Regions from separate parts of the Homo sapiens genome. Here all the other regions are linked to region 2. The links come from fine-mapping of genetic effects on gene expression. A gene starts in region 2. Each other region holds a variant in brackets. All regions are shown on one strand. Distances are from middle to middle.

The links.
Region 1: its variant is fine-mapped to the expression of MFGE8 in whole blood (TOPMed, PIP above 0.99).
Region 3: its variant is fine-mapped to the expression of MFGE8 in monocytes (Schmiedel 2018, PIP 0.95).
Region 4: its variant is fine-mapped to the expression of MFGE8 in whole blood (TOPMed, PIP 0.98).

What each region holds. Positions count from the first base shown.
Region 1 is chr15:88,882,357-88,890,473 of GRCh38, forward strand. HAPLN3 (hyaluronan and proteoglycan link protein 3) reads right to left here. Exons shown (of 5, transcript NM_178232.4): 2 at 4,819-4,989. The coding sequence starts at 4,942. Among named protein-coding and RNA genes, the nearest start is that of HAPLN3, 9.1 kb to the right of the region's middle. RefSeq lists an enhancer at 2,906-3,617. The variant C/A (reference allele first, on the strand shown) is at 4,239.
Region 2 is chr15:88,909,541-88,917,657 of GRCh38, forward strand. It overlaps MFGE8 (milk fat globule EGF and factor V/VIII domain containing), which reads right to left and starts at 3,839. Exons shown (of 8, transcript NM_005928.4): 1 at 3,707-3,839; 2 at 252-383. The coding sequence starts at 3,779. RefSeq lists an enhancer at 3,049-3,580.
Region 3 is chr15:88,364,396-88,372,512 of GRCh38, forward strand. LOC105370959 (a long non-coding RNA gene) reads left to right here. Exons shown (of 3, transcript XR_932590.1): 3 at 1-261. Among named protein-coding and RNA genes, the nearest start is that of MRPL46, 99 kb to the right of the region's middle. The variant AAAATAAATAAATAAAT/A (reference allele first, on the strand shown) is at 3,941.
Region 4 is chr15:88,936,432-88,944,548 of GRCh38, forward strand. No RefSeq gene overlaps it. Among named protein-coding and RNA genes, the nearest start is that of MFGE8, 27 kb to the left of the region's middle. The variant T/C (reference allele first, on the strand shown) is at 3,054.

The DNA.
Region 1 (8,117 bases), 27 kb before region 2:
GCCACCCCACATGAGGTACATGGCCAGGACAAGTGGCCCTGATAGGGATCCGTCGGAGTTTCCTTCCCCACCACACTGGCCAGAGGACAGCACAGCCCTGGCTTTACTCTCTGGTCCAGCTGTCCACCATAACTCTTCCCAAATACGGAGCAGCCTACTGAGCTAAGGGCAGAACTTCTAAAGGAGACTACGCTCACGGCTCAGAGTTACAAATACACACAGAACTCAACATGCAACAAAAGAATCAAGTTCATAGGCTAAGGCTGCCTCATCTTTAACTTGGGAGCCCCTGTTGGGACCTCACTGATTCATTCTCTTGGGTCTAGACTTCAAGACATGCTTGATTTACTCAAGGTGGGGACAGGGGCCAGGCACGGTGGTTCACGCTTATAATCCCAACACTTTGAGAGGCCAGGACAGGAGGATCGCTTCAGCCCAGGAGTTTGAGACCAGCCTGGGCAATAAAGTGAGACCCTGTCTCTACAAAAAAATTTTTAAAACTAGCTGAGTATGGTGGTAGATGCTTGTGGTCCCAGCTACTCGGGAGGCTGAGGTGGGAGTATTGTTTCAGCCCAGAAGTCAAGGCTGCAGTGAGTCATGATCGCACCACTGCATTCCAAACTGGGTGAGAGAGCAAGACTCTGTTGCCAAAAACAAAATAAAAACAAATTAATTAATTAAAAAGGTGGAGGCAAGGGGACAGCCTCATGGGTAAGCAGGAGACAGACAGGGAGGTTCCCTGTAGAGGAATCGTGCTAAAAAAGAGCTATACCTAATGTAGCAGATTGCCATATGCAGAAGTCTCCAAGTGTGGCCCTCGGGCCAGCAGCATTAGCATCACCAGGAATTTGTCAGAAATGCACATTGTGGGGTCCCAGTGCCTCAGAGACTCTGGGAATGGGGTCCAGCCTCCAGGGGACTTTCAGGCTCATTCAGATTAGAGCTGTCCTGCTCTGCAGAGGCAGTAGGTACAGAGGTTTGGAGTCAGGCAATTCGGGCTTGCCCTTGGTTCCACCTTTTCCCAGCTGTGTAATCCAGGGAAGTCAAGACTCAGCTTCCCCATTTGTAGAATGGGTTAATTACAGTCCCTACAGAGGGCTGTGGTAAGGTTCAAATCAGGTAAGGCAGGATGCCTGGCACACAGAAAGTGTCCAATAAATATGAAGCAGGGCTATCATTTAGGGGCCACTTCCTTGGTTCTTCCCAACTCTCTTAAGTAAACTACCTTTGAAGCTTTAACCTGAATAAAATGAAAATGTACATCCATATGATAAAATACTATACAGCCATGTAAAATAATCTGGTAGATGTACATTCAATCATTGACTTAGAAAACGAGTTCTATTCTATGAGGTGATAAGGGAGAATACAAAAATCACATGTATGACATGAGCTGGTTTTTGTTGGAGAAAGTTTTCTAAATCATAAAAGAATGGCTCAGCTAGGTGCAGTGGCTCACGCCTGTAATCCTAGCACTTTGGGAGGCCAAGGCGGGCAGATCACTTGAGGCCACGAGTTCGAGACTAGCGTGGCCAACACGGTGAAGCCCCATCTCTACTAAAAATACAAAAATTAGCTGGGCACAGTGGTGCACGCCTGTAGTCTCAGCTAACTCAGGAGGCTAAAGTGGAAGGATCTCTTGAGCCCAGGAGGCAGAAGTTGCAGTGAGCCGAGATCACACCACTGCACTGGTGTGACAGAGTGAGACCCTGTCTCAAAAAAAAAAAAAAGAAAAGGCTAGAAAGAGATACCTAAAAAGTTAACAGTGGTTCCCCTGGGTGGGGGGATTATATATGACTTTGCTTACATATTCAGGGACAAAAGGGAAAGACAAAAATGAAATGTTGGCCTGGTAGTGTAGTGAAACTATGAGTAGGAAGTTTAAGTTTTTTAAATTCCGCAAATCTCATTAAAGTAGTGCTTGTAGGCCGGGCACGGTGGCTCACGCCTGTAATCCCAGCACTTTGGGAGGCCAAGGCGGGCGGATCAGGCGGTCAGGAGATCGAGACCATCCTGGCTAACACGGTGAAACCCCATCTCCACTAAAAATACAAAAAATTAGCCAGGCATGGTGTCGGATGCCTGTAGTCCCAGCTACTCGGGAGGCTGAGGCAGGAGAATGGCGTGAACCCAGGAGGCAGAGCTTGCAGTGAGCCGAGATCGCGCCACTGCACTCCAGCCCAGGTGACAGAGCGAGACTCTGTCTCAATAAATAAATAAATAAATAAAGTAGGGCTTGTATAACAAAATAAATTCTGAAGGAAAAGGGTGTGGTGGGCTAAATAATGGCCTCCCAAAATACCCTAAATCCTAATTATGTAGCAAAATGGACTTTGCAGATGAGGTTAAACTAAGGATGTCGAGATGGGGAGGGTATCCTGAATTTCCCAGGTGGGCCCTAAATGCAAATGCGCAAGTACCTGTTTAGAGGGAGGCAGAGGGAGATTTGCATATAAAAGAGGAGAAGACCACGTGACCAAGGAGGCAGAGCCTGCAGTGAGGCAGCTACAGCCAAGGAATGCCAGCAGCCACCAGAACCGGAAGAGGCAAGGCAAGAACAGATTCTCCCCAAGAGCCACAGGAGGTACAGTCCTATCCGCACCTCGATTTCTGCACAGTGAAACTAATTTTGGATTTCTGGTGCCTAAAGCAGTGAGAGAATACATTTCTGTTGTTTCAAGCCACCAAGTTTGTGTTAATTTGTTACAGCTGACCTAGGAGACTAATCAAAAGAGGGAAAATGCCTCTGCAGGCACAATCATCTACTCAAAGGCAGAGGGAAAGGTGAGAAACACCCAGCACTGCACTTGCAGGCTCATGTGTCGTCTCTGAACCAGGCTGTGCGCTCTTCATGGCAGGTGCTGGCTATTACTGAGACCAGCCATCTGGTTCGTTCCTTCCACAAACAAGTGGAACAAGTTTGTTGTTGTTGTTTTTGAGGCAGAGTCTCACTCTGTCACCCAGGCTGGAGTGCAGTGGTGTGATCTCAGCTTACTGCAACCTCCTCCTCCCAGGTTCAAGCAATTCTCATGCCTCAGCCTCCTGAGTAGCTGGGATTACAGGTGCACGCCACCACACCCGGCTAATTTTTTGTTTTTTGTGTTTTTTTTTTTTTTTTTGAGACGGAGTCTCACTTTGTCGTTCAGGCTGGAGTGCAGTGGTATGATCTCAGCTCACTGCAACCTCTGCCTCCCAGGTTCAAGCAATTCTCCTGCCTCAGCCTCCTGAGAAGCTGGGATTAAAGGCACCTGCCACCACGCCCGGCTACTTTTGTATTTTTAGTAGAGACAGGATTTCACCAGGTTGGTCAGAATGGTCTTGATCTCTTGACCTCGTGATCCATCCACCTCGGCCTCCTTAAGTGCTGGGATTACAGGTGTGAGTCACCGCGCCTGGCCAATTTTTTGTATCTTTAGTAGAGGGTTTCGGTATGTTGGCCAGGCTGGCCTTGAACTCCTGACCTCAAGTGATCCACTCACCTCAGTCTCCCAAAGTGCTGGGATTATAGGCATGAGCCACTGCACCCAGCCCTCAGCTTTGTCTTTTTAATAGCTGTTTGACCTGGACAACTGGATCAACTCTCTGAGCCTAGTTTGCTCATCTATGAGAAGGGATGATAATAGAATCTACTTTCAGGCTGTGAGGGCAGACAGCATCAATTCAGCCTGGTCAGCACCCGTGCTGCACTAATGGTTAAAAATGTGTATTTTCGGCAAGGCTCGTTGGCTCACGCCTGTAATCCCAGCATTTTGGGAGGCTGAGGCGGGTGGATCACCTGAGGTCAAGAGTTCAGGACCAGCCTGGCCAACATGGAGAAACCCCCATTTCTACTAAAAGTACAAAAATTAGCCAGGTGTGGTGGCAGATGCCTGTAATCCCAGCTGCTTGGGAGGCTGAGGCAGGAGAATCGCTTGAACCTGGGAGGCAGAGGCTGCAGTGAGCCAAGATCGCGCCACTGCACTCCAGCCTGGACAACAAAGTGAGACTCCATCTTAAAAAAAAAAAAAAAAAGGTATATTTTCACCCTTGCCTACATCAGGGCTTTTGTGATTACAGGAGACGACATATGCAAAATATCTAGAAGCGCGCCCAACCCATGTTGGGTGCACAATAACTGCTACTTTAAAACGTTCCCTGCCCAAGGCCACACAGCTAGTAAGAGGTAGAATTATAAGATTCAAACTCGGGCCAGGCATGGTGGCTTATGCCTGTAATCCCAGCAATTTGGGAGGTCGAGG[C/A]AGGTGGATCACCTGAGGTCAGGAGTTCAAGACCAGCCTGGCCAACATGGTGAAACCCCTTCTCTACTAAAAATACAAAAAGTAGCCAGGCATGGTGGCACATGCTTGTAATCCCAGCTACTCGGGAGGCCGAGGCAGGAGAATCGCTTGAACCCGGGAGGCAGAGGTTGCAGTGAGCCGAGATCGTGCCATTGCACTCCAGCCTCGGCAACAGAGTGAGACTTTATCTCAAAAACAAACAAAAAAAACATTCAAACTCACATCTATTCGACCCCAGGTCCCCTTTCCACTGGGGGGACCAGGGGAGGACACATTCAAGCTGGACCTTGAACAACTGGCAAGACTTTTAGGGAAAGTAAAAAGCCTAAGTGAATTGGGCCCCATGACGAAGGGGCTGGCGAACACAGGAAAATGAACTCACCCCTTCCCCTGTCTGAGAAGCAAGCTGGCCCACTACAAGGGCCCTGCTGGAACAGGGCTGCTGTCCCTGTCCCAGCCTGGAACCCTCAGATCACAGCAAGAGCCAAGGAGGTCTAGGTCACCCAGGGGAGCAAAGAGCCGGGTGCAGGAGGTCGCCTACCTTTGCCATGACCGTTGCCTAGGTTCTGGTCGTTGGCGCTGTTGGAGTAGTAGAAGCCGTTGTAGAAGGGCAGTCCGTAGGAGCCGGGCAGCAGGAGCAACGGGACCAGGAGCAACAGGCCCATCTCCTCATGCCAGGGTGACCCGGGCCAGGCTGGGGCCCCAGGGCAAACTGGGAAGGGGAGGAAAACAAGGCAATTAGAAAAGCCTGGCTTCCAGGGCCCACATCCCCTCTGCTCCAACACCACTCACTCGCTTGCTCAACAGCTCACTGCGGGACACCTGCCGCCTACGTGCCAGACGCTGTTCCCGGAGCTGAGAAGACAGCAGTGACAAGCTAGATGGGGTTCCTGCTTTCAGGGAGCTGTACCCCGAAGGCAAGACGGGAGATCAGCAAAGAGACAAATCATAAGAAGGAAGTATCAGGCAGCTAAAAGCAGAGAAAATTAAGCAGGATGATATGACAGGCTCAATGTTTTTCAAGCCAGAATTTGAAAGGTTATGGGCAGGCTGGGCATGGTGGCTCACGCTTATAATCCCAGGACTTTGGGAGGCTGAGGCGGGCGGATCACCTGAGGTTGGGAGTTTGAGGCCAGCCTGGCCAACATGGAGAAACCCCGTCTCTACTAAAAATACAAAATTAGCCAGGCATGGTGTCACATGTCTGTAATCCCAGCTACTCGGGAGGCTGAGGCAGGAGAATCGCTTGAACCCAGGAGGCAGAGGTTGTGGTGAGCCAAGATCATGCCATTGCACTCCAGCCTGGGCAACAAGAGTGAAACTCTATCTCAAAAAAAAGAAAAAAGAAAGAAAAGAAAAGAAAGGTATGAGCAGCACTTTTTAATGACGCCAAATAAACTAGACTAGAATAGAAAATATCAGGGTGAATAGAGGGTATGTTAAGTAAAGATGAGTCCTGCATTGTGAACCCTTTTTTTTTTTTTTTGAGACAGAGTCTCGCTCTGTCGCCCAGGCTGGAGTGGAGGTTGCTCACTGCAACCTCCGCCTCCTGGGTTCAAGAAATTCTCCTGCCTCAGCCTCCCGAGTAGCTGGGACTACAGGTGCGTGCCACCAAGCTCAGCTAATTTTTTGTAATTTTAGTACAGACGGGGTTTCACCGCGTTAGCCAGGATGATCTCAATCTCCTGACCTAGTGATCAGCCCGCCTCGGCCTCCCAAAGTGCTGAGATTACAGGCATAAGCCACTGCGCCCAACTCAAAAATAATTTTTGAACACCATGCTAGAGGTCTTGGGAGCTATTCCAGTTTGGGTGGGCGCTCAAAAGAGGTAGCCAACCCATGGGCTGTAGTTTGATGATTTGATTTTTTTTTAAATATTGTATTCAAATATTTTGTCTTGATTACTAAGATTTCTAGCAAACTCCCTTCCTCCCCCGCTTAAATCTCACACCAAGGGCTACTGCCTCACTCATGTCACCCTAGCCCTGCTCACCTGCCATTTACTGCGTGCTCTCAACAATTAAAAGATGGGGTCACTCCTTGAAGGAGCTTGGTCCAGGGAGGGGGCAGAGTCGTGGGCAGGCAGTCTTGATTGCTGTGTGTTGAGTACCACGATGGAGGTACAGAAACGGGAATGTCCAAATGAGACTGAAGATGCAGGAGTTTGCCAGGTGGAGAAGGACTGACAGGTTTATCCAGTAGGGCACTGCCACTACAAAGGTGCAGATGCCAGCAAGAGTCCCAAGCCTGGGGGTGCTGGGGGTATACAGGAGGTCCTCCATTTGCCCCACACACCCACCAGGTCCATCGTCTGTCCTTCTCTGACACGTATTGGTCCCTGTTGTCCCAGTTCCCCAGGCCTTCTGGCTTCCAGTGGGATTGAGCCAATGGGAGGCACTCAGAGAAGATGGCAGAGAGGGAAGAGGAGGAAGACGGGGCATTGCTTCCCAGCTCCCTTGCCACCCCAGTGCCTCTGCCATAGAGTGTCTGCTGCTGCTGCTGGCCTCTGCGTCCCCCACTTCCTTGTTGGGTCCCCTCACCCTACTCTCTAGAAGTCATTCCTCCATTAAAGTCTCTTTATTGGAATCATCTGGGCTGAATTCTGCTTCCTGCCAAGACCCTGGCTGCATGGGGGAGAGGAGGTAAGGGGGTCACCAGGGCCAGCGTCTGGATGCCTTGGGTGTCAGGCCCAGAAGCATATCCTGTTTTGTTTTTTTTTAAAGATAGAATCTCACTCTGTTGTCCAAGCTGGAGTGCCGTGGCAAGATCTGAGCTCACTGCAACCTCCGTCTCCTGGGTTCAAGTGATTCTCATGCCTCAGCCTCCCGAGTAGCTGGGATTACAGGCATGCGCCAACATGCCCCATTAATTTTTGTATTTTTTGTAGAGACGGGGTTTCACCATGTTAGCCAGGCTGGTCTCGAACTCCTCGCCTCGAGTGATCCGCCCACCTCGGCCTCCCAAAGTGCTGGGATTACAGGCATGAGCCACCACACCTGGCCAGAAGTCTATCCTTTGTCCTGGAGGCCAGTGATGGCTTTAAGCAGAGAAGTCACAGGATCAGACTCACATCTTAAGACACTTCCCTGCAGGGGCTGAGTGGAAGGTAGACCTGGGGGCAGCAAGACCAGAATGACAGCAGGCAGCTGCAAACATAACTATGATTATCATGTAGCAACGTGGAAGAATGCTTAGGGTGTAAGTTAAAATAGACAAAGCAGAACATACAATTGCCTCTGCTATGATTGCAACCATGTGGTCTTGTGAATGCCTGTGTACAGGACCCAGAAGATGAGGAAACACTTAAAGAGGAAGGGAGGGAGGACAGAAGGGAGAAAGGAAGGAAGGAAAGAAGGAAGGGAGGGAGGGAGGGAGGGAGGGAGGAAGGGGAGGAAGGAAGGAAAGGAAGGAAGGAAGGAAAGGGAAGGAGGGAGGAAAGGAGGCAGGCAGACACACACAGCATTGGCTTGTTAGAGTGATGGGATTGTGGAGGAAACATTCTTGTTTCCAGAACAGTTAGGAGCTCTTGCTGGAGAGAATGGATGTAAAGAAAGTTGAGAGGCCAAATCCACCATTCCCTTAGACACCACAGAAATCCCAAGGCCCAGACCTGCCATCTGTGCTGTGCACTGCAGCCAGGACACTACCAACTCTGAAACCCCACTTCTTGTCCAAGAGGAATTCATTCCCCTGTTGATTCCTGTAAGCCCCCTTGGTGATGGAGAACTGGGAGGCCTAAGCACAATGGGGCAACCTGGTACAGAGTTTGGGAACTGGAAGATCAGAGTTCAAATCCCACCTCTACTATTTATTCACTGCGAGATTCTGGGCAAGTTTCCT
Region 2 (8,117 bases):
ATCAGGCCTGGCCGGCAGTCTCAGGAAAGAGGGCCAGGCAGAAAGAAGGAAGAAACAACAGGACCCTTTTCCCCCCTCGGTCTAACTGAGGCTCTGTCTCTCTCTCTGAGTCTCCCCAGAGGAGGCCTTGACACCTCCACTGGGGTGGGGATCACAGGCAGAGAATAAGGCCAGCATATGGCCTATGCCACCAGGGCTGTGGCTCAGGGTCTACTGCTAGAAACAGGCAACAAGCACCCCCACATACTCACTCGTCTCACAGTGGTTGCCCGCGTAGCCCTTAAGGCACGTGCAGGTGTACGAGGGGAAGACATCTCCTCGCACTTCTTGGGAAATCTCCTCGCATAAACCACCGTTGTGGCAGGGGTTTTTGGAACAGATATCTGGGGACAGAGACAGGTAAGATGAGCAGATGATCAGGAAGGAGCTGGGGACACAGGTGAGAAGTAGCAGATGGGTCCAGCCCAAAAGGACCCTCCACTCAAACTCGCCCATTATCTCTTCCTCTCCCTCTTCCCCCGTGTGCTGGATGGAGCCTGAGTCCGCCTAGAGCCAAGGAAGTCCATGTGTAGGCGAATCGGCCCACATAAGGGAAGCGCCCAGCTTTCCAAGTGGCCTGGGAGTGTCCAGAAAAGTGCTGGCTGACAATGGCAGTGGTGCTGGGGACCACTGCCCACTGGTGGAAGAGCTGGCAGCTGGGGTCTGGAGAGGCAGGCAAGGTCCAGGGCAGGTCTCTTGGCAGCAGTTTGATTGCAAAGGAGGCCCATGAGGACTTTCAGGCAGGGGCAGTGGAAGGAAGCATTGTTCTGGCCCATTGAGCAGGTTCCGCCCACCAATTCAGGCACAGGTTGCAGTCACAGATGTCACCTCCAATGGCAGCCCTGACTCAGGAACAGCACGATGATCATCCAGGAAACACTGGGAGGGCCAATGACCATGCTAGGCCCCCGAGACAGAGAAATCAGATGCAGCGCAGGCCTCAAGAAGCCAAGGGGAAAGAGGCCAGCAAGTCCACAGATGAGGAAGATTGCCCAACGCTCCAGAAGCCTGCATGGACCGTCACTGGAGGCATGATTTCTGCTGGGGAATTAGAAGTTCCCCAGAGGAGGGAATATTTGAGCTGGGTCTAGAAGACAAAGTAAGGGGGGTGCCAGACTGGGCAATGAGTAAAGAATGTTCCAAGAAAAGCAGATGCACAGAGGGTGTGGTATGTTGGAGCACAGTTAGATGCAGCTGGAAGGGTAGGCTGGGGCCAGACTGGGAGGGATCTGAAGAATGACAAGTTTAGTTTTTCATCCCGTAGAGCAGTGGCTTTTAACCTTCCTTCACCCTCCTCACCATTGTCCACCAGGGGGGAGAAAAAATAAAAATAAAATAAAAAACAAGAAACAAGAAACAGAGATTCTCAAGTGTGAGATGGGAGTGGGAAAGTCAGTTCCAATTGCGGGATGAAGAAGGCTGAAAAGGCCCATGTGCAGACATGCCGCTGAGCTCTCCCAGGGTGGGGAGCATCTGGTAGCTGCAGACAGGTCCCTCTGGCTGAAATGCAGAAATCCCACTGAAGAGGGTGAAGGTGGAGAGCAGGAGAGCATGGTGAGAGAGGAAGTCAGGGCAGAGGAGTGAAAAGGAAGGGTGATTTCAGAACCACCAGGGGGCAAGGGCTGGAGAGGCCACCAGGGCTTCTGGATGGGAACCTGGATGACAGATGTACACTATCAGCCCCGGTGGTGGAGAACACAGGAGAAGGAACAGGAGGGCCTGTCCTCAATCCCTTGACTCTGGTGGGTCGGCCGGGCCCAACAGGAGTCCTCTAGCCGACATTAGCATCCCAGAAGGGCTGCCCCAGACCCTACACCCAAATCTGTCATTTGGAGCAAGACATGAGACATCTTTTTGCCTTGGCCGGGCATGGTGGCTCACACCTGTAATCCCAGCACTTTGGGAGGCCGAGGTGGGAGGATCATGAGGTCAGGAGATCCAGATCATCCTGGCTAACACGGTGAAACCCCGTCTCTACTAAAAATACAAAAAATTAGCCGGGCCGGGCGTGGTGGCAGGTGCCTGTAGTCCCAGCTACTTGGGAGGCTGAGGAAAGAGAATGGCATGAACCCAGCGGGCGAAGCTTGTAGTGAGCCAAGACCGCGCCACTGCACTCCAGCCTGGGCGACACAGCAAGATTCCATCTCAAAAAGAAAAAAGAAAAAAAAAAAAACCTTTTTGCCTCCCCCTCAGAGTCACCCATCTAAGGCTGGAGAGTCCTCCTGAAATCTCAAAGCCCCTTCATCCCACTCCAGGGAAGGCAACAACACCATTAATGAGCGATCTGCCCTCAGAGCTCCCCCTCCAGGGGCCTCAGGAGCTTAAAGTGGCTCCCAAGGAGCTATTAGTCATTGGCTTTAAATAGCAGGTAATCCTTCCTCTGACCTGGCAGGCGGGGGCGAGCATTGACACAGACAGAGGCTTGGGTTGGGAATGGACTCTTCCCTCCCAACTGCACCGGCCCTCTCCCTACACTGCTCCAGGGCAAAACGGTCCAGTGGGAAAAAGGGAAAGGGAAAGGTGTACTCTACCCAGCCACGTTACCTGTGTGTAAGATAGGTATGGTGTTTCCTCCTTCTGGAAAAGGCCACATCACCCTGTATAAAAACATCTTTGGGACTTCAGAGTCCTGCTCTTTCGGGGACTTTCCAGTAACATTTGGCCAGAGTTCAGGTTGGGGGGTACAGGGAAGAGTAGAAAGGGGCTAAGAAGATCCAGCTGTCTTTCATGGTGGCCGGGGAGGGCCAGGAGCTCCCAAGTTCCTGGGAGCTTGGAGCACTCTGGAAGCTCTAGCCCCGAGGGTCAGGCAGATCACAGGACATAGGGCTGGGGCTCAGCTGTTACCTACCTTGCTTCAGTCAATCCCATTTCTATGAGAAAATGATGGAGGGGCCACCTAAAGAGTCCTGGCCCTGACTCCCTCCCAGCGCTCCACGGTGAATGGCACGGGGCATCCGCAAGTCCAGCCTGCAAGGGGCCCAGCTGGCCTCCGGAGGCCTCCTGGGAGGCGGAGGAGGACCGGGGAAGATACAGCAGCCGGCCAAGGCCGCGGGAGGGAGGGAGTCAGGAGACTCCCATCAGCAGGCAGCCCTCTTCCAAGCTCCTCGAAGCCTCTGGGTCCCCTCCCGGGCCCCACTTACGGCCTGCGTCCATTGCACCGACTCCCCGGCCCTTCCCTTATGTGACCAGGCACGGACAATTGGGAGCGCAAAAATCCAATGAACTGTCCAGCCAACTGGAGTTGGCAGGGAGATGGCCAGGACAAAGTTATCCAGACAAGACTTATCCATACTAGAGTCCTAGAATCTCCCAGGTGGAAGGGGTTCGAAAGTCAAACGCAGTTCCCTGGCCTCATTTTTCACCAGGGAAAAGAGAGGCCCGACACAGCGGATTCCTTTGTCATTATCTGTAAGCCGCATCCCTGGGGGCGGCAGGGCTGTCACCCGATGTCCCGAGTCCCAGCCCAAAAGCCCCAGCGCAGAGACAGCAGGGCCGCATCCCCCTGTCCCGCCAGGGCGCAGCGGAAGAAGCCGCCCCTCTGCCCAGCCCGGTCCCCGGGGCTTTGTCTAAGTTTGTCAACAGTGGAGGTGGAGGGCGGGCGCCGGGCAAACTTCCGAGCGGCGCGGGGAGGAGGGGCGAGGGGCAGAGGGCGGCGCGATCCACTCACCCAGGGCGACGAGGAGGCTGGGGGCGCAGAGCAGCGCGCCGCACAGCGCGGCCAGCAGGCGGGGGCGCGGCATGCTGCGGGGACGCGGGCGCTGGAATGGGCACGCTGGGCTGCTCAGACCCCGCGGGGTTCTGGCGCCTTCTCCTCTGGGACCGGAATAAATCAGGCGGCTCAGCACCTCCCACTGGCCGTGCGCTCCGCCCAAGCTGGCCAGAGGCGGACTGGGGGCGGGGCTCCGCGGCTGGGAGGGAATTGGTTGAAAGGAATTGGGGGGCGCGGGGGTGGTCCGCGATATCTGCCTCTTCCGCCACTGCCACACCGGCGTCCCGCGTCGTGCCAACGGCCGGGTCACGAGTCTTGAGTCTGTTGGGCGGGAAAAGTTCAGGAGTTTTGTTTTTAAGATTTTTAGACTTGAAAAGATGCTAACTCTTTATTCATAATCAGATAGATGCAAATTAAAACTACAATGAGCATCGTGTTTCCCTTCTCGGATCGGCAAGTATCAAGATGTTAACAAGGTTAGTGGAGGCTGTGGGGAACAGGTCCAAGCATGCTTCGCTGAAGACAGTATAAATTAGTTCAACTTCCCTAGAGGGCTATTTGGTAACACCTATCAAAACGACAAATGCTGACACCTTAAGACCTAGCATTTCCACATAGAGAGATTCATTCTACAGAAACTCCCATGTGCAAAATGACAGATATACAAAGATAGCATAGCAACATTGTCTGAAATGGTAAAATACTAAAAAAAAAAAATCAGCGAAGGTTTCTGTAAAGGGCCTAATAGAAAATGTTCTCTGATATGTAGGCCCTGAGTCTCTGTAGCAGCTATTCATCTCTGCCTTTGTTGCAAGAAAGGCACCATAGACAAAATGCGAGGAAATGGGCACCTGTTTGCCGAAAGGGAATAAAACAAAGCAAGCCTGTCACCGTTGACTTTTTACTAAATGATTTGTACTTATCATGTGCAAATATTACCTGTTTACAAATAAGTGATTTTAATAATAGTGTTTTGGCTGGGTGCGGTGGCTCACACCTGTAATCCCAGCACTTTGGGAGGCCGAGGCACGTGGAACACCTGAGGTCGGAGTTCAAGACCAGCCTGGCCAAGATGGTGAAACCCCGTCTCTACTAAAAATACAAAAATTAGCCGGGCGCAGTGGCAGGTGCCTGTAATCCCAGCTACTCGGGAGGCTGAGGCAGGAGAATCGCTTGAACCCAGGCGGCAGAGGTCCCAGTGAGCCGAGATCATGCCACTGCACTCCAGCCTGGGTGACACAGTGAGACTCTGTCTCTAATAATAATAATAATAATAATAATAATAATAATAATAATAATGCTTCAGGCTGGGAGTGGTGACTCAAGCCTGTAATGCCAGCTCTTGGGGAGGCCGAGGTAGGCATATCACTTAAGCTCAAGAGTTCGAGACCTTCCTGGGCAACATGGCAAAACCCTGTTTCTACAAAAAAAGAAATACAAAAATATTCCAGGCGCATGCCTGTAGTCCCAGCTACTCAGGAGGCTGAGGTGGGAAGATCGCTTGATCCCAAGAGGTCGAGGCTGCAGTGAGCCACGATTGCACCACTGCACTCCAGCCTGGGCAACAGAGCGAGACTGTCTCAAAAAATAATAACAATACTAATACTAATAAGTATTTAAGTCAGACTAGCCAACAAACAAAATAGAACAGTCACACATCTCCCCTCCTAGCTGTGTTGAGACCTAAGTTGGGACTAGAGTCCACTGGCAAGATGCCCTTCTTAAAATATTCAGAAGCGGGTACTGGGCGTGGTGGCTCATGCCTGTAATCCCAACATTTTAGGAGGCCGAGGCAGGCGGATCACGAGGTCAGGAGATCGAGACCATCCTGGCTAACACAGTGAAACCTCGTCTCTACTAAAAATACAAAAAAAAAATTAGCCGAGCGTGATGGTGGGTGCCTGTAGTCCCAGCTGCTCAGGAGGCTGAGGCAGGAGAATGGCGTGAGCCCGGGAGGCGGAGCTCGCAGTGAGCCGAGATCGCGCTACTGCACTCCAGCCTGGACAACAGAGCAAGACTCCGTCTTAAAAAAAAAAAAAACATATATATATATATGGGGAAAAGACATATAGGATCAACTCAATAATCACAGAAAAAGCATTTGATAATATCCAACACGTCTTCGTGATAAAACACTCAACAAACTAGAAGTGAAAGGGAGCTTCCTCAACCTGATTTTTAAAAATCTATGAAAAACCGATGGGTACAGTGGCTCACGCCTGCAATCCCAACACTCTGGGAGGCTTAGGCGGGCAGATCAGCTGAGGTCAGCAGTTCGAGACCAGCCTGACCAACATGGTGTAACCTGGTCCCTACTAAAAATACAAAAAGTAACCAGGCATGGTGGTGCACACCTGCAATCCCAGCTACTCAAGAGGCTGAGGCACAAGAATCGCTTGAATCTGGGAGGCGGCAGTTGCAGTGAGCCGAGATTGCACCCCTGCTCTCTAGCCCGGGTGACACAGTAAGACTCTGTCTCAAAAAAAAAAAAAAAAGTGTGTATATATATATATATATGTATATATATATATATGTGTATATATATATGTATATATATATGTGTATATATATGTGTATATATATGTGTATATATATATGTATATATATGTGTATATATATATACATATATATATGTATATATATGTGTATATATATATACATATATATATATATATGTATATATATGAAAAACCCATAGCTACTATCATACTTAATGGTGAAAAACTGAATGTTTCCCCTAAGCTCAGGAATAGGACATGGTGTTCTGCTCTCATCACTTCTATTTCATCACTGTGCTGGAGGTTCCAGCCAGGACAATTACGCAAGAAACAGAAAATACATCCCCATTGGAAAGGAGGCAGTAAAACTATCTCTATCTCTACTTACAGATGGCATGATCTTGTATATCAAAAACCCTAAAGAGCCAGGCGCAGTGGCTCATGCCTGTAATCCCAGCACTTTGGGAGGCTGAGGTGAGCAGATCACCTGAGATCAGGAGTTCAAGACCAGCCTCAACATGGAGAAACCCCGTCTCTACTAAAAATACAAAATTAGCTGAGCGTGGTGGTGCATGCCTGTAATCTCAGCTACTCGGGAGGCTGAGGCAGGAGAATTGCTTGAACCTGGGAGGCGGAGGTTGCGGTGAGCCAAGATCGCGCCATTGCACTCCAGCCTGGGCAACAAAAGCGAAACTCCATCTCAAAAAAAAAAAAAAAAAAACAACCCTAAAGAATCCACATACACACACACACACACACACAAACACACAACTATTAAAGATAATAAATGAGCTAAGCAAGGTTGCAGGATACACAATTAATATACAAAAATCAGTTGTATTTCTTACACTAGAAATAAACAATCCAAAAACATAATTTTTAAAAATCCCATTTACAATAGGATTAAAAAGAATAAAATACTTAGGAATAAATTTAACAAAAGAAATACAAGACATGGCGGGGCACGGTGGTTCATGCCTGTTATCCCAGCACTTTGGGAGGCCAAGGTGGGTGGATCACCTGAGGTCAGGAGTTCAAGACCAGCCTGACCAACATGGCGAAACCCTGTCCCTACTAAAAATACAAAAAGTAGCCAGGTGTGGTGGCTGGCACCTGTAATCCCAGCTACTCGGGAGGCTAAGGCAGGAGAATCGCTTGAACCTGAGAGGCAGAGGTTGCAGTGAGCTGAGATCGTGCCACTGCACTCCAGCCTGGGTGACAGAGAGAGACTTCGTCTCAAAAAAAAAAAAGAAAAAGAAATACAAGTACGTTGAACACTACAAAACATCATCAAAAAAATTAAAGAAGATCTAAACAAATGGAAAATTATCCCCTGTTGATAGGTTGGAAGACTTGTATTGTTAAGATGCCAGTACACCCCCAAATTGATGTACAGACTCAATACAATCTCTGTCAAAATTCCATCTGCCCTTTTTGCGGAAATTGACAAGTTGATACTAAAATTCATACGGAGGCCTGGCGCAGTGGCTCATGCTTGTAATCCCAGCACTTTGGGAGGCCAATGCGGGAGGATCACAAGGTCAGGAGATCGAGTCCATCCTGGCTAACACAGTGAAACCCCGTCTCTACTAAAAATACAAAAAATTAGCCGGGTGTGGTGGTGGCCGCCTGTAGTCCCAGCTACTCGGGAGGCTGAGGCAGGAGAATGGTGTGAACCTGGGAGGCAGAGCTTTCAATGAACCGAGATCACACCACTGCACTCCAGCCTGGGTGACAGAGCGAGACTCTGTCTCAAAAAAAAAAAAAAAAAAATCACACGGAAATGCAAGGGACCCAGAATAGCCAAAACAATCTTGAGGAAAAAAAAAGAACAACATTGAAAGACTAACATTTCTCAATTCCAAAACTTA
Region 3 (8,117 bases), 550 kb before region 2:
ATGTGGACCAGGGTAACTTCAGCCGGAGAGCAGCATAGGGTGTCCTGATGTCTGGCATGCTGCCTGGTGGGCAATCCTCCATCCATTACCCTGTTGGTTCTTCCATTTGGCCATCGGTCCCCAGTCTAGGGAGTGCCAGAGGCCAAGGCAACCAGGAGCAGCTGGGGCACCTCCCAGGCCAGCCTGTCCCCTTCCTGCCCACACCAACCAGGCAGCCTCTTCCTCCTGCCCACTGCTTGCACCAGCTTCTCTACCCAGAGAGATGACTGCGTGGGCCCTTGGATTCCACAAGCAACTCAACTCAGGACATTTGATAACCTTAGCCACAGAAGTGAAAAGAGAAAGCAAGGAGAGAGGTGGCGAAGGAGAAAGAGAAAGAGGAAATGAAAAACAGACATCAGTTTATAAAGAAAAAGAGTTTCTGAAGAAGAAAAATCAAGGACAAAGTGAGAAACTCTTCCTTCTTACAATGGATACAATGGATTTTTCCCAAACATGTTAAATTCTTCTCCAGAAACTTGACTGAACTGTGACAAAGAGGTTTTCATGAACTTTGGAGGCAGACAGACCTGGTTTGGACTCCTGGTTCCAGCCTCTGCTTGCCCTGTGGCCTTCACAGCCTCTCTGAAGCCATTTCTTCCCGCCTGTAAAAGAGGAAAATAACCTGTAGAGCAGCTGTGAGAATTCAGTGAGAGATTGGGGCTGAAGAGTCACTCAATGAAATATTTTTTCCTCTCCTTGCTCTCCCACTAGCCCTTTCCCCTTCCTTTGGTTGGACTTGGTTGTTTCCATTGTGGATTTGTCTGTTTCCGCTACCTCTCGGAAGCACCTGACCCTGGACTGCAAGCTCAGGAAAGAAATCTACTGATGAGGCCCCCGGTGATTATAAGTGATCACAGCCTGAGCGAGCAGTCAGCTGAAGATGTTCCGGGCATACATCTGCCTTCAGTGCTGCAGCTCATCCCAGGAGTCTCGTGAGAGATAAATCAGAGGGAGGGCAGAGGGGTGGGGGGCCAGGGTCGGGCAAGCAACAGAGGTATGTGCAGCTTCAGAATACACAGCTCGTAAAGGAGGAAGACGGTGGGAATCCCTGCATCTTGCATGTGCTCATGACAAACGTCAAGGAGGAGGAAAGGGGAAGAATGAGATGGCACAGGCACACACATGTGTGTGAATGCAAGCCTCCAGGACACACTGGCCGAGGGTGTGGGCCCAAGGGATTTTCCCTGCAGTCCAAAGACTGGGCTCCATCCCACTTCCACTATCCTGAGGCTCTTTTCCCTCAGTGGACTTGGTCTCCTCATCTGTAAAGGAGGAAGTCAGAAAAAGGGGCTCTCGTGCCTCTTTGCGCTCTGAGAGTCTGCCACATAGAGACCCCTTCTGTCCAGGACCCCAGATCATGGTGCCGAGGTGACCTTGATAATGTGCTGGGTCTGACCCAGGAAAGCTGGAAGGGTAGGGGGCCAGAGTGCCCATAACACAAAGCATCAGTGAGCGATGGGCAAGACTGACCCAGTGCTGACAGCAGCAGATGTGAGGCTGCTGAAAACTTCGGTGCTTACACATCTGGTGCCAAATATCCTGAACTCCTTGCTTCCTTGTGCCAGAACCCATATTTTACTGAGAAGCCGAAGCATTCAAGGAAGTCAACCTCAGGCCTTCTGTGCCCATGCCTCAGAGATGGGAAAAGGCCCTGGATTAGACTCCAGAGCCCAGCAGGGAAAGCCAGCATCCTAGCAAGAGCAGAACAATAAAGTTAATCATAGCCACCTCCAGTCATTTGTGGGGAGCACAGGAGAGAGGCTTGCATTTCATTCTCCCCACAGCCCCGTGAGGGAGGTGCTATTGAGAGGTGAAGCCAGCTGGACTTCTGGGTCAGGTGCGGACTTGGAGAACTTTTCTGTCTTACAATCCTCTTACAAGAGGATTGTAAAATGCACCAATCAGCACTCTGTAGCTAGGATTATAAAACGCACCAGTCAGTGCTCTGTGGCTTGCTAGAGGTTTGTAAAATGTGCCAATCAGCACTCTGTAAAAACACACCAATCAGCTCTCTGTGGCTAGCTAGAGGTTTGTAAAATGGGCCAATCAGCACACTGTAAAATGGACCAATCAGTGCTCTGTAAAATGGACCAATCAGCACTCTGTAAAATGGACAGATCAGCAGGACATGGGCGGGGATAAATAAGGGAATAAAAGGTGCCCCCCCCACCCCCACCCAGACTCCTGCCGCCAGCCAGCCCCTGTGGAAGCTTCGTTCTTTTGTTCTCCACAATAAATTTTGCTGCTGCTCACTGTTTGGGTCCGCACCACCTCTAAGAGCTGTAACACTCCCCACAAAAGTCTGCAGCTTCATTCCTGAAGTCAGCAAGATCACGAACCCGCTGGAAGGAACCAACTCCGGACACACTATTACTATCCTTACTGTGCAGATGAAGAAACTGAGGCCCCTGCAGATGAAGAACCTCCGAGGCCCCAGATGAGGGCTGTGTGTGTGTTGTGGGGGCAGCAGTGATAGGCGTGGATTCCAGGAGAGGAAGTTAAGTGTCACCTTTTGCTTCTCCTGGTGCGAAGTGGGCTTCTGCCTCTCACCAAGATGCTCCAAGTGCATGAATCCTCCCAGGTAAAAAGAATGTCTGGATGCAGGGTTGCCAAACCAGGGCAAGACCCACATCAGGGCCCAGCCATTTGTTTGTCCCAGTTTGTCATGGCCACAGAGCTCACAAAGGGCTTGCTCAGATGGTCACGTCTTCAAGGTAGTCAGGGCAGGTGGCCACTACTTGGAGGTAGTCAGATAGGATTTCTGGCTCTGGATGGGGAAACTGAGGCTCAGGGGGTGGGGTGGCTTGCCCACAGTCACCTGGCTGGCAGGCTGGCTGGCGTGAAGCAGGGATGAGGACCCCTGGGTCCCAGCGCCAAGAGCAGCACCGTGGCCTCTGTTCTGCACCATGCCTCTCTTACAGCAGGTGCTGCCACACCACCTTTAATCCTGCGTCCCCCAGAACTCCCTGACACCGCCACAGAATGCCCCCTGGGCAACCTAACAACTCCCAGTCTTGGCAGACAGACAAACCAAAATGCAGCAAAGGTCAGAAAAAACTTTCTGCTCCCCTGTCTCTCTCTTCTCACAAGCTCAGCCTCCTTCCCTGACACCCTCTTTTTCACCGTCCCTAAATGTTGGGAAATGACATTGAGGTCATAAAGGGAAGTCACCTGCCACGTGACTTCACCCACTGAGATCTGTGGCTCATGCAGGCATTCTGTGCCAGACCGCCCAGAGATCAAATGTCCACTCCTCAGGAGCTGGGTGACCTTGGTGTGCCATTTAAGCCTCAGCCTCCGTTATGTTGAATGTGAAGCAGTAGAGTAAGTGTCCTCCTCACAGTGCTGTGGTGAGACTTCCGTGAGGTGAGGATGCCTCTTTAAGTATCACCTTGATATGGATGATAATTATTGAAGCCAGCTCATCAGATAAATCTCACTTGGTTTACAAACACGAACACCTTTGCTTTTTTTAAAATTCTCAACACTGATCTCCTCTCTGCCCATGATATAATATATATAGATACAATTATTTTCTTTGGTTACTTTTAGATATTAACAGTTTTTGTGTGTAGTAAAAATCTGGAAAAGTCAGGTAGAAAATGTTCAGTCTAGGTCAGGATCAGTGGCTCATGCCTGCAATCCCAGCACTTAGGGAGGCCGAGGCAGGTGGACCACCTGAGGTCAGAAGTTCAAGACCAGCCTGGCCAACATGGTGAAACTCCATCTCTACTAAAAATACCAAAAATTAGCCAAGCATGGTGGCGGGCTCCTGTAATCCCAGCTGCTCAGGAGGCTGAAGCAGGAGAATCTCTTGAACCTGGGAGGCGGAGACTGCAATGAGCGAAGATTGTGCCATTGCACTCCAGCCTGGGCAACAAGAGCAAAACTCCATCTT[AAAATAAATAAATAAAT/A]AAATAAATAAATAAATAAATAAATAAATAAATAAATAAATAAAGTTCAGTCTCTTATTTGAGCTGAAGCTCCTCCCTTCCCTATTCCTGGAAACTGCACTGGAGAAGGAAGATGTGGTGGCTTTCCTCATTCTCCTTGTATCACCTTCTGCCCTGTTCACTCCTGCTGCACCTGGTTTGTCTAGGAATGGGACAGAGGATGGGAGAGAAGGAAAATAAGGGTCAAAGAAGTTATCAGCCGGGCGCAGTGGCTCACGCCTGTAATCCCAGCACTCTGGGAGGCCCAGGTGGGTGGATCACACAGTCACGAGACCGACACCATCCTGGTGATGGTGAAACCCCTTCTCTACTGAAAATACAAAAATTACCCGGGCATGGTGACACGTACCTGTAGTCCCAGCTACTCAGGAGGCTGAGGCAGGAGAATCGCTTGAACACGGGAGGCGGAGGTTGCAGTGAGCCGAGATCACACCACTACACTCCAGCCTGGGCAATAGAGAAAGACTCCATCTCAAAAAAAAAAAAAGTTATCATGAGTGGTATGGTTGCAGTCTGCCACTGGTGCCCTCTGTAGGGGTTTTGGACGCCCTGCCCTCTGGCTTTGGGGACCTCTCCGCATGATGTCCTTGTGCAGGGAAGTACTTTCAGGCAACTGCCTCACCCCTCCTTCCAGAGCTCACATCCAGTGGCACAATGCATGCAACTTCATTTTGTTGGGGTCCTTCTTGCATGGGCCCCTTTCCAAATGGCTTCAATCCCACCACCCTCTTAAGGCACGGAAAAATTCAACTGGAATCTGGAAGGTCCCCTCCCCCCGCCCTCCCTATTCTTACCAGACAGGCAGCTCTATTTACTTCCAGCCTTTAGATGCTTTTAGGCAAGGGTCGGTCCCTGCCCCTATGCCACGCAAATTCTGGAGGACACAGTGATCTCTCAGCACAGCTCTGTCACCTCATTCTATCCCGTGTCCTGGAGTCCACAGGTTCCTTTCCCTCAGCTGGAAGAGAGTGGTGAGCACCCCCTCCCCTCTCCTGATTAACATCCTGTTGCATTACTAATAGGCACATTGTCTAAGAAGCCATTTTATTAGCCCATCTTTCAACGGAGTCGGGCTGAGCTTACAGTCTCACGAACTCAGGAAGAACATTAGGAAGCTGCAAGCCTCTCAGAAACGTGTCCTCATAACTGCTCTGACACGTCCAGGAGCGTCTCTCCAGCCAGGATCCGTGGAATGAGTACAGCAGGCTGGGGGAGATAGATGAAGCTGGTCTCCTCCTCCTGACAGGTTGTGCTCCGTGTCTACAAGCAGAGACGGTCCTGGGCTCTGGCATGTGAGGATAGAGAGCCCAATGTCAGCAGCAAGACATGCTGGAAACTCTGTGAGGCTTCATCTGCCACAGCACACCTGGTGGTCCTCACAGAGGGACGAGGCCTATGCTTTCCTCCTGTGAAGCAAAGGAGAGAATGGGGACTAAAATGGCAAAATGATGATGATGATGATGATGATTGCAGCCACAGTTTGCTATACTCTTACCTTACATCAGCAGGGGTTACGTGTACTGCCTTATTTAATCTTTGCAGCAACACCCTGAAGTGGTGTGGCAGACAGAATAATGGCCCCCAAAGATGTTCACATCCTAATCTCCAGAACCTGTGAATATGTTATATTACATGGGATGGGGGAATGGTGGATGCAGGGAGGCGGTGGTTAAGGCTGCAGAGGGAATTAAGTTTGCTAATTAGCTGACTTTAAAATAGAAAAATTATCCTGGATTATCTGGATGGGTCCAATGTAATCATAAGGATCACTAAAAAGGAAAGAGAGAGAAGAATATCAGCATGAAGCAATGTGAGAAAAACCAGACCAGCCATTGCTCACCTTGAAGATGGAGGAGGCCATAAGGCAGGACACAAGGAAAGATGGAGAAGCCAAGGAAACGGCTTCTCTTCTGGAGTCTTCATAAAGGAAATCAGCCCTGCCAACACCTCGATTTTAGCCTGGTGAGACCCGTTGAGGACTTCTGACCTCTAGAACTGTAAGATAATTTGTTTTGTTTTGTTAGCCACTACATTTGTGATAATTTGTTGCAACAGCAATAGGAAACTGATACAAATGGGCACTGTTTTATCCAGTTTCAGATGAGAAAGCTGAGGCTCAGAGAGATTAAGTAACTTCCCTAAGGTCACACAGCTAGGAAGGGCAGTGCAAGAATGGGACCTAAGGCTGTCTGACTCCAAATCCGGGGCTTTCAGCACTAGACTGTACTACACTTTGATGAGGGCTGCAGTGTGCCCCCGCTGCACACCTGTCATCTCACTGAGTCCTCACAGCAAGCCCACAAAATCAATATCATGAACCGCTTTGCAGATGTCGAAGCTGGAGCCTCAGAGAAGTGAAGAGACTCAGTGACCTCTCACAGCCAGAACATGGGAAGAAGGGAAGCCCCTGTGATTTGGTTTGAATTTGTGTCGCCTCCCAAATCTCATGTTGAATTGTAATCCCAGTATTGAGGGAGGGGCCTGGTGGGAGATGATTGGATCAAGGGGGCTGACTTCACACTTGCTGTCCTCGTGATAGTGAGTTCTCATGAGATCCGGTTGTTTAAAAGTGTGTGGTACCTTCCGCCTCTCACTTCCTCCTGCTCCAGCCATGTAAAATGTGCCTCCTTCCTCTTTGCCTTTTGAAACGATTGTAAGTTTCCTGAGGCCTCCCTAACCACACGTCCTGTACAACCTACAGAACCGTGAGCCAATTAAACCCCTTTTCTTTATAAATTACGCAGTCTTAGGTAGTTCCTTATAGCAATGCAAGAACAAACTAATCCACCCTGCCTGTTGGGTTTGGGGGTACCCGTATCAGCCCCCCTCTGGCATTCTCCTCAAGCCAAGCCACTTGTTTCATCTGGGCAACATATACTAAATGGCCTACTATGTGCTGGCACCATGAGGGGTCCGAGACCACAGGCCCCGGGTTCTCCACAATCTAGGCTTTCCTACATTGCAAAGGAAATGTCTGCAGCCTTTTTCCATTCTCAGCCTCTGCATCTTGGCCCTAGTATCTGAATCACGGTATCCCACAACAGGTCATGGAGCAGGGCCTCTTATCCTTCTAGTTCAGTTTACATTAGCCCAAAATTCTGGCCCAGAAGGTAAGCTTCTCAGCTGCTGCCATGAGCCTGGTGGTCTCCGGACAGTGGGATCTGATTTTGTTGCATCTGTGTGTTTTTAGGTTCCCTCCCCACACCCTCATATGCAACTCCTTAAGACTTTCCAAGGAAAAAGGATCTGTGCTATTAGCCTCCATGCCCTTCACTGATGGAAAATCTGTCCCTGCGCTCTACCCCAAGGATAAGAGATGCCGGCAGCAGAGGCAGCAGTGCCAGAGAATAATGTCCCTGTAGTGGCTGGACATGAGATCACTACGACAGATGTAAGGTGGTCCTGGGTGGTTTTGGCTTTCCCAGTTGATGCACCCTGTGCAGGCTGTTTGTATTTGTACTCCTGAAAAGTGATAAGGAGGGTCATTCGTTGGCGGGAAGCCCACCTGGCAGATGCCTAACGGGTGGACACTCCTCCTGTTCATCATGGATCTTCAGACCCTCAAAGCTCCAGTGTCTGTGATCAACTGGAAAGAGGCTGTTACAATGACCAGGCCCTCTTGGTCTTCATATCTGGAAAATCTGACCCGGGAAAAGGATTGTTGACTTCCACTCAAAGATGTGGAATCTCCGGACCAAGGAGAGGTCAGAGAGAGGAACCTTACTTGTTCATGAAAAGAAATCCATTGTCATTTATCTGTCTACTGCTTGACGTGCCCCAAAGACCTAGTTTTTCCAGATAAGATAATGTGGTGGCCAGGACTCAGCATTCCATGCCTCTCCTTTTACCTACTTAATCTTAACATTTTGGTTCTAGATTTGGGTCCTAATTCTGGCAAAGAAAAGTAGGGAAGGGGTGGAGGTGCCCCATCTTTTTTTTTTTTTTTTTTTTTTTTGAGATGGAGGCTTGCTCTGTTGCCAGGCTGGAGTGCAGTGGCGCAATCTCGGCTCACTACAACCTCCACCTCCCAGGTTCGAGTGATTCTCCTGCCTCAGCCTCCCAAGTAGCTGGGATTACAGGCACCTGCCTGTAATTAGACACCGAGCTAATTTTTGTATTTTT
Region 4 (8,117 bases), 27 kb after region 2:
TAGAAGAGGAACTGTCTGAGGCATGGGTCGTGAGCCAGGTTCATTTCCCAGTACACCCTCAAGTCTAAGTCTAGAATCTAGAATCTAGATTAATGCCTGGGGGGCTCCTGCCAGGGAGTGTGGTGGCCTTTGGCCACATGAGCTTTGGTGCATGAAGTCCAGACCCCTTCAAAATCTCACAAGCAAAGTGAGTTGCAGATCATTTTTCTGATAATCCAGCTTATATTTGCTGAATCAGACACCCACCTATTTCCAAAGGGCAAACTTTCCTTCTCAGAAATAGTACTGCTTAACCCTAAAAAGGAAAGGAAACCATTCGTAAGAGCCCTATAGTTTGTAAGGCAACCTCTCCAATCCTCAGCTAATACTTCACTCACCCTAGGGCTTGCCAGGAACAAGAAAGAGTCCCAGGTTGAGCCAAGACTTCTTAAAGGCTGCTGTCAGCTACACACACAAAGAAACGGCAGAGGCTTTGAAATTACCACTTATAAATGCACAATTGCATTCATGGGCTAGCGGGTGGGGGCTGGCTCTTCTTCTATGCCACTATCTGGAGGTGGAAAATAGGGGGAAGTTCATTCTTCCCTTGATCTTAGCATTTGGGCAGGTAAAGTTGAGGTGCTTACGCCATCTAGGCAGTTGAAAATAAAGCTCCAAGGAGTAGCCAGGAGTGGTGGCTCACACCTATAATCCCAGTACTTTGGGAGGCCTAGGCAGGCGGATCATGAAGTCAGGAGATCGAGACCATCCGGGCCAACATGGTGAAACCCAGTCTCTACTAAAAATACAAAAATTAGCTGGGCATGGTGGCGTGTGCCTGTAATCCCAGCTACTCAGGAGGCTGAGACAGGAGAATCCCTTGAACCAGGGAGTCAGAGATTGCAGTGAATTGATCCCTACAGATAGATGTGAAAACCATCAGCTGTAAAATGGCAGCCCATGCTATGGAAATGGGGGTGTTCCTATGGGGGCAGACACAAGGAGAAGGCAGAACCTGTTTTCCCCACTCAGCTCTGCGAGGATGTTCTCCCCTGTAAACCAAAAAGTATCTGAGATGGGTCTCAATTAATTTACAAGTTTATTTTTCCAAGATTAAGAACATGTCCTTAAATTGATTGAGACCTGTCTCAGATATTTTTCGGTTTACAAGTTGGCAACCAACAGAAGGGACTCTGAGTGGCAGTGGCCCGGATGTTTGACAAATCTCCTTTCAGTGCTTGGCACCAGCTTGGGCTATCTTGATTGCTCAAACCAATAGAACAATTCTCTAAGGCCTGGGACCTTCCCCCCTCCATAGAACCTCTGATCCAAATGTTGATTGAGATCTAAGATTTATTTTGGGCTGGGCGCGGTGGCTCACACCTGTAATCCCAACACTTTGGGAGGCCAAGGCGGGCCAAGAGGAGGTCAGGGGTTCAAGACCAGCCTGACCAACATGGTGAAACCCCGTCTCTACTAAAAATACAAAAACTAGCTTGGCGTAGTGGTGCACACTTGTAATCCCAGCTACTTGGGAGGCTGAGGCAGGAAAATCGCTTGAACCTGGGAACTGGAGGTTGCAGTGAGCTGAGATCACGCCACTGCACACCAGCCTGGACGACAGAGCAAGACTGTTGAAACAAATAGGTTATTTAAGAAAGACAAGGAGTTTTCAGGAGAACAAATAGGAGATAGGAAAATGTGTGATAACGTTTGTCTATATATGTATGAGTGGGCCTTCTGTCTTCTTCAAGACCATAAAACTCTCCCAGAGAAGGGATTTATGGCACATTTGCTGTATGTAAGATTCATTCTGCTGTATGCCTCTTCTGGAGTTTTACTTGCTTCCCAACAAGGAAGGTGAGTTTTCCTGCTTCCATGATAATGGAAGGCAGGCAACTCCTTTCTGGGAGTCTCAGCTCATTTCCAACAGGGAAGGCAAGTTTGAGTCTTCTCCTGCTTCTAGGATGGTAGCAGTTTTCAGCCTGGGCCCCATTCTTAGGTAAGTAGCTGAATTGGGGTTTTCTCTAGGAAATTCTTTTTTTTTTTCGAGATGGAGTCTCGCTGCTCTGTCGCCCAGGCTGGAGTGCAGTGGCGCAATCTCAGCTCACTGCAAGCTCCACTTCCCGGGTTCATGCCATTCTCCTGCCTCAGCCTCCCGAGTGGCTGGGACTACAGGCGCCTGACACTACGCCTGGCTAATTTTTTTGTATTTTTAATAGAGACGGGGTTTCACCGTGTTAGCCAGGATGGTCTCGATCTCCTGACCTCCTGATCCGCCCGTCTTGGCCTCCCAAAGTGCTGGCATTACAGGCGTGAGCCACCGGGCCCGGCCAGGAAATTCTTTTTAATGACTAAAAGTTAAGATTAACAGCCAGCTGGTCTTAATTTCTCCTTACCATTAGAGTGCTGAGTAATCATATGAACTGTGCAATTGTTTGTTTCTCTTAGCTTATTTTTGTTCATTTGTTTCTTTCTGTTTTTGTTTTTTTGTTTGTTTGTTTGTTTCTGCATGGCTCTTGTATCAGTTCGAACCTCGAGAGTCGCCAACAAACAACACAAGGCGGTGTAGAGCAACACAGTTTTAAGGCGCACCGCGTGGGGGCAGACAGGCTGAGGCCTAAAATGGCTCAGCACCTAAGGAGGATGGGGCAGAGATTTTATAGTCTCCTGTAAACAGGAAGTGTCTCAGTCTGATGTAACTGCTACGCCGTACCCGGACAGCCTTTCTCTCGGTCTTCAGGGGGTACCTGCCTTCCAGCCAGCTAGCTTGCTTCCTGCTTCTGTTATCTTGCTGACGCATGCCGCTGGCGCAAGTGGTCTTTACTTTGGGACTGGGCCTGAGAAGGGCAGAGTTATTCACCACCCTCCACCACCCCCAGCTTCCAGGCCCAGGGTAAAGTCAGTTTCCATCTTTTTCCCATTGGGTTTGACCAACTCTACCTGACTTGGTCAAATCCAAAGGAAAGTTCCAAATCATGGGAAACAAGGTCTCTGAATTTGCGAAATCCCTGCAGCTGAAAAAAAAAGAAACAGAAAAAAAGAAAGAGAGAGGGAGAGAGAGAAAGAAAGAA[T/C]GAGAGAATGAAAGAACGAGAGAGAGAGAGAGAGAGAGAAGGGAAAGGGAAGGGGAAGATTTTGACTATCTGAGGAGTTTTATTTACATGACAAGGCCACCTTTTGCTAGCCAAGCCCAAACTGACAGAGCAATGGCAGCTGTCCGTGCTGTAGTTCTGTAGCTATGATTCTGCCTCTTGTTTTTTACATGGTGACAGCCTGGGTTTGGTTCCTAAGTCAAGTCCTTTCTAATTTGATATTTGTGTTACTTTCAAACTATCAGCAGTTTTTCCCAGCAAAAATATGATAATAGGAGATTTAAAAGGATTTTTTAAGAGCTCAATGGTTAAGTCAGCTTAACTAAAAGCTAATATCTAAGATATATATACACACACACATATAAGCATATATATATACACACACACTTTTTTCTCTCCTAGGTTCTTGATTTTTGAGAAAAAGGTTTTTTTCTTCTCAATCCACTGAATTCTGTTTTGTCCATTTACTTCTGCCTGTCTCTCCTTCCTCTTACCACCCTCTGCTGCATGAAGGACATAAATAGTTCCTAACAGCCTAGGATTCCTTTAAGAAAACAGAGAAGGCGCCAGGTTTCTTTTTGGGAGAAACCTCTGTTTTTCCTTATGGAACCCCAAGAGTGTAAACAGACAAGTTCCTCTCAGATCTGTAAACCAAAAGTATCTGAGACAGGTCTCAATCAGTTTAGAAGTTTATTTTGCCAAGGTTAAGGTCGAGCCTGTGACACAGCCTTAGGAGGTCTTGAACAACATGTGCCCAAGGTCATAGGGCTACAGCTTGGTTTTACACATTTCAGGAAGGCATAAGATATTAATCAATACATATAAGATGTACATTGGTTCAGTCCAGATTCAGAGAGAGTAGATCGTAAATGTTTCTTATCAGACTTAGAAAGTGTTATTATCAGACTGTTCTATCGGTCTTAAGGTCTGTGTTGATGTTAGTGCTGGTCAGCGGTGCCTGAATTGCAATGGTCAGAGGGTATAATAGGGCATGTCTGACTCCTGCTTCCCATCATGGGCTGAACTAGTTTTTCACTTTCATTTTGGAATGCCCTTGGCCAAGAGGAATGATCATTCAGTTGGGTGAGGAGCTTGGAACTTTATTTTTGGTTTACAGATCTTCAACTGCTTGTTCTTATGTTACCTGATCTTTTTTTTTTTTTTTTTTTACCAAAATCGTGATTACCCTGTACAGGGGTTACTCTTGCATATTTTAAGATAATAAGTGGTGTGGTTTTTTTTTTTTTTTTTTAATTTATTTTTTTATTGATAATTCTTGGGTGTTTCTCACAGAGGGGGATTTGGCAGGGTCATGGGACAATAGTGGAGGGAAGGTCAGCAGATAAACAAGTGAACAAAGGTCTCTGGTTTTCCTAGGCAGAGGACCCTGCGGCCTTCCGCAGTGTTTGTGTCCCTGATTACTTGAGATTAGGGATTGGTGATGACTCTTAACGAGCATGCTGCCTTCAAGCATCTGTTTAACAAAGCACATCTTGCACCGCCCTTAATCCATTTAACCCTGAGTGGACACAGCACATGTTTCAGAGAGCACAGGGTTGGGGGTAAGGTCACAGATCAACAGGATCCCAAGGCAGAGGAATTTTTCTTAGTGCAGAACAAAATGAAAAGTCTCCCATGTCTACTTCTTTCTACACAGACACGGCAACCATCCGATTTCTCAATCTTTTCCCCACCTTTCCCGCCTTTCTATTCCACAAAGCCGCCATTGTCATCCTGGCCCGTTCTCAATGAGCTGTTGGGCACACCTCCCAGACGGGGTGGTGGCCGGGCAGAGGGGCTCCTCACTTCCCAGTAGGGGCGGCCGGGCAGAGGCGCCCCTCACCTCCCGGACGGGGCGGCTGGCCGGGCAGGGGGGCTGACCCCCCCCCACCTCCCTCCCGGACGGGGCAGCTGGCCGGGCGGGGGGCTGACCCCCCCACCTCCCTCCCGGACGGGGCGGCTGGCCGGGCAGAGGGGCTCCTCACTTCTCAGTAGGGGCGGCCGGGCAGAGGCGCCCCTCACCTCCCGGACGGGGCGGCTGGCCGGGCGGGGGGGCTGACCCCCCCCACCTCCCTCCCGGATGGGGCGGCTGGCCGGGCAGGGGGCTGACACCCCCACCTCCCTCCCGGACGGGGCGGCTGGCCGGGCAGAGGGGCTCCTCACTTCCCAGTAGGGGCGGCCGGGCAGAGGCGCCCCTCACCTCCCGGACGGGGCGGCTGGCCGGGCGGGGGGGCTGACCCCCCCCCACCTCCCTCCCGGACGGGGCGGCTGGCCGGGCGGGGGGCTGACCCCCCCACCTCCCTCCCGGACGGCACGGCTGGCCAGGCGGGGAGCTGACCCCCCCCACCTCCCTCCCGGATGGCACGGCTGGCCGGGCGGGGGGGCTGACCCCCCACACTCCCTCCCGGATGGGGCGGCTGCCGGGCGGAGACGCTCCTCACTTCCCAGATGGGGTGGCTGCCGGGCGGAGAGGCTCCTCACTTCTCAGACGGGGCAGCTGCCGGGCGGAGGGGCTCCTCACTTCTCAGACGGGGCAGCTGCCGGGCAGAGGCGCTCCTCACATCCCAGATGGGGCGGCGGGCAGAGGCGCTCCCCACATCTCAGACGATGGGCGGCCAGGCAGAGACGCTCCTCACTTCCTAGATGTGATGGCGGCTGGGAAGAGGCGCTCCTCACTTCCTAGATGGGATGGCGGCCGGGTGGAGACGCTCCTCACTTTCCAGACTGGGCAGCCAGGCAGAGGGGCTCCTCACATCCCAGACGATGGGCGGCCAGGCAGAGACACTCCTCACTTCCCAGACGGGGTGGCGGCCGGGCAGAGGCTGCAATCTCGGCACTTTGGGAGGCCAAGGCAGGCGGCTGGGAGGTGTAGGTTGTAGTGAGCCGAGATCACGCCACTGCACTCCAGCCTGGGCACCATTGAGCACTGAGTGAACGAGACTCCGTCTGCAATCCCGGCACCTCGGGAGGCCGAGGTTGGCGGATCACTCGCGGTTAGGGGCTGGAGACCGGCCCGGCCAACACAGCGAAACCCGGTCTCCACCAAAACCAGTCAGGCGTGGCGGCGCGTGCCTGCAATCGCAGGCACTCGGCAGGCTGAGGCAGGAGAATCAGGCAGGGAGGTTGCAGTGAGCCGAGATGGCAGCAGTACAGTCCAGCTTCGGCTCCGCATGAGAGGGAGACCGTGGGGAGAGGGAGAGGGAGACGGAGCGGGAGAGGGAGAGCGAGAGGGAGAGGGAGAGCTGCATTCCTTTTCTTAAAGTTCTTAAGTGATATACTCAAGATGGAGTACTCTGTAATGATCTGGCCCCAACTGACATTTTCCAGCTCACCTTCTGACCCTTCTGGACATGCCCTGACCAAGTTACCTCAATGTTGTGTTCCTGATACAATATCATGTCATTATCTTCCATACTTTTGTCTCTTTGCATATGTAATTCCTTTTGCATAGAATGTGTTTCCCTTGTCAGCCTGGCTGGCTTAAGACAATTGAGATCTAGGAAATTTGCCATAACTTCCTTCGGCAGGTTTGAGGTAGTTTTCTCTTATTTTCCCATACTGGCCAATCTATAGAAATTATGATAATAATGTATTACATGTATACTATACGCTAGTCCCTCTGAGGCTAATTATTAGTCTATGTAGATTGGCATCTCAGTAAAGAAATTGAGCTGAAGAGAGGTTAAGTGACTTCCTGAAGTCTTCATGGTTAATCCCTTTCCAGTGTCAGGTATCAAACCTAGGTCTCATGGCCCAATGGTGCGATCTCGGCTCACCTCAACCTCCGCCTCCCTGGTTCAAGCAATTCTCCTCAGTGGTGTGGTTTAAACACTTAGAGAAATATCTTTGTAACAGTGCACCGTTAAGCACATTACATGGCCTAGTCCCATGATGTCACTCTGTTTGGAGAACTAGGATTCAGTGTGGGCTCCACCCAGAGCTCAGAGGTCCAGTTAAAAGATAGAGAGTAAATTTAAAACTACCTATCTAAACAAAATTTGTCTCCTTATCAAATCCTATGGTATTTTTCTATCATTTTATGTTTGGCTTGGTATCCGTTTTTAATCTCCTGCTAACACACCTAGACTTCGTCTGTACTTTGAGATGTAAATTTCACTCTCTGATTTTCACTTAGAGTTGTTCCTTTGGTATGCAAATTTAGAGCTATCTAGCTGACAATTGCCTAGGGAAATGACACGGATTATCAAGAAATTAGAACTCTAAAATAGGAGACTGAAAAGGGGAGTCTTATGAATCTATGAGCTTCTATCTGCATGTCTAATAAGTCCATGTATTTATGTGTCATGTATATGATGTTTCACTACCAAAAATATATAAAAGAGCTCTAATTAATTGACTTTTTTAAAAAAGCTCTTAAATACTTTATCAGGGCCAGGCATGGTGGCTCACACCTGTAATCCCAGTACTTTGGGAGGCCAAGGTGGGTGGATCACCTGAGGTCAGGAGCTCAAGACCAGCCTGACCAATACGGAGAAACCCCATCTCTACTAAAAATGCAAAAAATTGGCCGGGTGTGGTGGCGTATGCCTGTAATCCCAGCTACTCGGGAGGCTGAGGTAGGAGAATTGCTTGAACCTGGGAGGCGGAGGTTGCAGTGAGTCAAGATCGTGCCATTGCACTCCAGCCTGGGCAACAAGAGCAAAACTCTGTCTCAAAAAAAAAAAGAAAAAAAAAAAACTTTATCAGAAAAATAGGAACTTTAAGCCCAAATGCTTTCTCAAGTTCATGTGACTTAAGTAAATCCTTAATAAGCTGGTTTTAATTGATAAAATTAGAAATGTCTTCAGAATTCTTAACATACATTATTGTTTAGATTCGTTGGTCAAGTGGTTTCATATTTATCTCTCCTAAATATTATAAGGTGTCAGTCAGACATGGTGGCTCATGCCTGTAATCCCAGCACTTTGGGAGGCTGAGGTGGGCAGATCACCTGAGGTCAGGAGTTTGAGACCAGCCTGACCAACATGACCAAACGCCATCTCTACTAAAAATACAAAAATTAGTTGGGAGTGGTGACACGTGCCT